2 separate regions of the Homo sapiens genome follow, and region 1 is linked to region 2. Evidence: fine-mapped expression QTL. Tissue or cell type: fibroblasts. Region 2 holds a variant in brackets; the other region holds the start of a gene. All regions are shown on one strand. Distances are between the middles of the regions.

Region 1 (2,605 bases), 48 kb after region 2:
ACAGTAGTTACCCCTTATCTGTGGTTTCGCTTTCCTCAGTTTCAGTTATCCATGGTCCGAAAGTATTAAATGGAAAATTCCAGAAATAAACAATTCGTAAGCTTTAAATTGCATGCCACTCAGAGTATTGTTGTGATTGTTCTATTTTATTATTGTTGCTAATCTCTTACTATGCCTGATTTATAAACTTTATCATAGATATGTATATATAAGATAAAATATAGTATATACAGGGTTCAATATCATCCACTTTTTCAGGCATCCACTGAGGGTCTTGGAATATATCCCCAGGATAAGGAGGGACTACTGTATAAAACTTTCAGACTAATAAATCCAGTCCTAAGAGAAAAGTGGGAGTGGGTAGCCATCCTCATGACTCCAATTTATTAGTCACATTTTAAACCTTACCGTGATTTAAAAACACCTGACTCTTTATTATGTTAGATGTTTTCTCTACAATATGCATCGTTTTATGTAAATGCAATAGCATTTCATGGGATCCACTCTAACCAGTAAAACAATATTTTATTTACCAACTGGCACAGAACAAAACAACAATTTTCTGAACCCACCTTCTGACCAGACTTCTTTTCCATCTACAGAAACTCCAACCACTATGCCCGGTGCGCCCACCTCATCCTAAGACCGAAGGGGAAAGAACCGACAGTTACGGGCCTGCTGAAAAAGCCCAGCGCTCTCCTCGGGGACCTTCCAAGGCCCCGCCCCCTGAGCCTGGGCCCCGCCCCCTCCACCTGGGCCCCGCCCACCTCGTCCCAGGCCATGGTCACTCACTAACAGCAAGGGATGTGCCTGTCCGCCCCCTAGGGGGAAGGGGCGGTCCCCGAGACAGGCGGTGACCTCCACCCAGATTTGGGGAACCCCCAAGAGCGTCTGACCACGGCTCGGCGGTGGGGAAATGGGAAGTCTTTCTCGGAAGCCGATCGCGGGCACCCCGCCGCCCCGGGTGGGGTCCACTCAGCCCCCGACAGCACCGCCGACAGGGGTGGATCCCCGGCCCCCTACGCCCCCCGCTCCAGTGGCCGCACCTTGATCCTGTGCAGCAGGTCGCGGCTGCTCTCGATGGCTCTGGCGAAGCACCTGGAGCAGGGCGGCGCCGGGGTCTGCGGAGACCACGGGGCGAGGGACTGCTCCTGTGGCGGCTCGGCCAGAGGCGACGCCTCAGGGTCGGGGGCCGCGGGGGACTGCGCCGGGGCCGCGCCCCTCAGCCCACCTGCCAGCTTCACCCCGAGCGCCAGCCCCAGCCCCAGCCCGAGGCCCCCGACCCAGCCGTGGCCGAGAGGCGGCAGCCCGGCGCGCTGATGGACCCCGCGTCGTCCGCAGCTTGAGGCCAAGCCCCCGGGGGCGGCAGCCCGGGCAGTCACTGCTGACATGAGCCGGTACATGGCGTCTCTGCACAGCCGGCCGCCACCAAACTCACGCACACCCTGCCAGCCGCGGCGCGGGGCGGAGGGAAGGGCAGGGGGCGGGACGGGGGTGGGGACCGCGGTCAGACCCTAGCAGTCGACGCCTGACTACCCGAGCGCCGATCGCATCGAGCCCTTCTTCCTCTCCCTTTTCTTGTCTCTTCCTTGTTTTTCCTTTCTGTCTCTCTTTCCTTTTTTTCCTTTGCTTACCCTCAGATCAAGCGTCACCTCCCAGAAGCCTTCCTAGTTCCCGTCCCATGGGAGTTCTCGCCCTTACCATCTTGCCCCTCAGTGTGCACACTTCTTTAACAACAGTTAACACTTTGTATCATTTAACTACTTGTCAGATTCCTTACCAGAGTGGGACTTCTTTGGGGAGCCTAGACTTAGTTTTGGATCCTCAACTTCTGGAACAGCGCAGGGCACACAGTAGACGCTCAGCAGGCATCTCCTTTCCCTTTAGAGATGCCTTTCTCCTTTCCTTTCCCTTTCTCCTTTCCCCCTTTAGAACGCGCTTCTTTTCACTCTCTTGCCATCTCCCTTATGTCTCATTTCAATTCACCCATTTCCCTAAAGATGTTTTAAAATCTATTGCTTCTGGAATTCTAGCTCCACACCGTACCAAAGACATGAAGTTACATCCAGACCTTATATTACCTTTCTTTTGCTATAAAAGATAAAGTGTTTTTTAAAAATTTCGTGCTTGAAAAATTTTAATCCAAAAGTAACTATTATAATTTACAATTACCTATGATTTCTCAGCATCTGTAAATGATCAGACATTCTTGTGAAATAAGAAACCTAATCTCAAATTGCTACAAAATGTAAAATGTGTATAAAATCCTAGTTTAACGTGTAATGAAATTGATATGTTAATTTGAAGTTACTTAAACATTTATCAGTTTTGTAATTTTTATATTTTGGGATACATACATACACACACACACACACACACACACACACACAATCTTTGAAAGCTTGTAGGCTTTATACCTTCAGCACTGGGGCAATATGCCCCATATACAAAATGGCCCTGTCTTTTCTTGCAGGTGGAATAAAGAAGAGAGCTCACAGACTTGAACTGACAAGCCATCAGGACAAACATATTGAGGTAATAAACTTACTGAGTAAACATATACATACCTCAAAATAAATATATTGAGGTAATAATTATTTAATAG
Region 2 (2,760 bases):
CTCAGGTGATATCATCATCATCATCATCACCACCACCACCACTATCAGAGATTATGGGGGAAGGAGTCTTAGTTGCTCTCCAAGGCTCACAGTATAGCCTTTGGATTTAACAACGTGCCCCATAGTTCCCTTAATGGCACCTTATAAGTCAGAAGCAGGACCCACTTAGGTCAGAACCTCTAGATTTTCTGCTTCTCACCCCTTATTTCAGATTTTCTTCTTTGGCCACTTGAAGAAGTGTGAATAAGATAGTTCTCATTTAGACATAATGTGAGGGCTGTTTAGAAAGGCATTTTGCAAATAAATTACTTGTATATTATGCATAGTAATTTTGTTGGTTGTAAAATATACTGTTAGACACATGTAGATCCTTGTAAACTGACTCAGTTCCAATGTACTTGGTATGTCTTTAGTTTAAATGGTTTCTCCCCTCAACATGTGGTCCTCGGATTTGATTGTTCCACAGGAAAAAATGTTTTTGTTGTAGACATTCACCACCAGTTTGCCGAAGTTTGTGGAGAAAATGTTTTCAGTTAACAAACAATGTCCCATTAATGCTAGGGGTTTGAGGGAGAAGGCAGGCAGCCTGGAGGGGGTAGCGCAGAGCCACCAGCTGTGGTGCCAAAGGCAGCAAAGACGCCTGGAGGGAGTGGGCACCTTTAGGGTCTTCTGTTCAGTCTGTGCCTCCTTTCCTCAAAGTTGCCCCTAGCCTTCTTCCACAGGGGTGGCCCCAGCAGTCACTGTCTCCTCAAGTGGCCCTGAGGCTCTACCACAGATGACCAGGGTAGACACTCCTGACCCAAGCTGAGACAACCAGATTCTCTCTCCAGGGCACCTGGAATTAGGACACAGGCCTCTGGTCAGTCACAGTTGGCCCTGGAACTAGGACAGCTTATACTGGGGGGCTGGCCTGGCCATTTTCACTGTGTACCATAGAAGGAAAACTGGGCTGTGGAGAAAGGAGACTGACACAGTGTCAGGGAGAAAGAGATGAGAAACCAGGTCACCCCAAGAGAAAAAGGGAGGTGGCAAGAGCATGGCTGTCTCCATTCACAGTGGCCTCTCAGGGCTTTGTTCCCACCCCATGTGGCCCAGCTGCCCTTCCTGCCCTGGCGGGTGCCCAGCACACTCTCCATTTTAGCTCAGGCAAGTGTGAGATGCCTCTGTTACTGGAAACCCAAGGAGACTTGGCTAAGTCCGTGGGCTGGCAGGGAGAGAGGCTTAGCCAGAGATTCTGGTTGCACAGAAAGTGTCTGCCTGTTCACACCTACCCTGCTAGTCCCATCACACTCAACTGGCCTGTCTAAATCAGACATGCACAGATAATTTTTACTGATCACAATATTAAATGCAACAGATTCACACTTATCCCTAAAATAATGTTTTCTCCTAGTCACTTCCTGATATACCTTCTTGTGTCATAGGGAAGTGGATGGATGGCATTATAGATGGCATACCCAGAACAAAACAGGATTGGCACTGGTCTTGCCAATTCCCCTGACAATCGGTCAGTCCCATTGCTGGGGCATTTGATACTCATCTGTAGCTTTGGCCCTGCCCCGGGTTCACATGCAAATCCTCTGTCTAGATGGAAGGCTTTAAGAAGCCCTGTCTCAGTAGTTCAGGAGACACAGTTAGTTTACTCTGTGACTTGTCCTGCTTTTTTTTTTTTTTTGAGAC[A/G]GAGTCTCGCTTTGTCACCCAGGCTGGAGTGTAGTGGCATGATCTTGGCTCACTGCAACCTCGGCCTCCTGGGTTCAAGCAATTCTCATGCCTCAGCCTTCTATGCGTGCCACCATGCCTGGCTAATTTTTGTATTTTTAGTAGAGACGGGGTTTTGCCATGTTGGTCAGGCTGGTCTTGAACTCCTGACCTCGTGATCCACCTGCCTCAGCCTCCCAAAGTGCTGGGATTACAGGCGTGAGCCACCACACCCAGCAGGACAAGTTACTTAATTTTTCTAGAACCCAAAGGGATTGTTGAAAAGATCATATGAGCTAATGTGCCTGGCAAAATGTAGCAGGTATTTGATAAAATAAAACTGTCTTTCTTTCCTGTACTTAGATTTTTTTAACAGGTTTATTGAGATATAATTTACATACCATACAGTTCGCCAATTAAAATATACAATTCATTAGTTTTTAGGGTGGGGCACGGTGGCTCACGCCTGTAATCCCAGCACTTTGGGAGGCAGAGGCAGTTGGATCACAAGGTCAAGAGATCGAGACCATCTCGGCCAACATAGTGAAATCCCCTCTCTACTAAAAATACAAAAATTAGCTGGGTGTGGTGGCATGCACCTGTAGTCCCAGGTACTCGGGAGGCTGAGGCAGGAGAATCGCTGGAACCCAGGAGGCGGAGGTTGCAATGAGCCGAGATCGCATCACTGCACTCCAGCCTGGTGAAACAGCGAGACTCCGTCTCAAAAATAAATAAATAAATAAACGAATAAAAAATAAAAAAATTAAAAAACATTTTTAGTATATTCACTGTATTTAGATTTCTTAAAATGCAATTATAGCATAAGGAATGTGAGGTTTAATAGTTTTAAAAGACAGGATTTTAGTCAGCTATAAGTTTATGTAAATCAACAGTGTGATACCACTGCATTGACAAAAAAACCTTTGTGATATTGGGATGTATTGATACACTTACGATAATCCGAACAGGACAAGTAATAATTCCCTGTTATTCTCAGCTGGCAGTGTGTTCAGTCATTGGGCCTATTTTAAGAGAGAAATGGGCAAATTGGAGCATGACTAG

Evidence for each region. PIP is the estimated chance that this variant, and not a neighbour inherited with it, causes the effect.
Region 1: it holds the start of LACTB, and the variant in region 2 is fine-mapped to the expression of LACTB in fibroblasts (GTEx, PIP 0.99). The same link has a PIP of 0.9 or more in subcutaneous fat.

The regions. Positions count from the first base shown.
Region 1 is chr15:63,120,670-63,123,274 of GRCh38, reverse strand. It overlaps LACTB (lactamase beta), which reads right to left and starts at 1,414. Exons shown (of 6, transcript NM_032857.5): 1 at 1,047-1,414; 2 at 573-639. The coding sequence starts at 1,403. LOC107984798 (a long non-coding RNA gene) reads left to right here and starts at 1,508. Exons shown (of 2, transcript XR_001751584.1): 1 at 1,508-2,535. RefSeq lists silencers at 656-845, 856-925, 946-1,525.
Region 2 is chr15:63,168,393-63,171,152 of GRCh38, reverse strand. No RefSeq gene overlaps it. Among named protein-coding and RNA genes, the nearest start is that of RPS27L, 12 kb to the right of the region's middle. The variant A/G (reference allele first, on the strand shown) is at 1,681.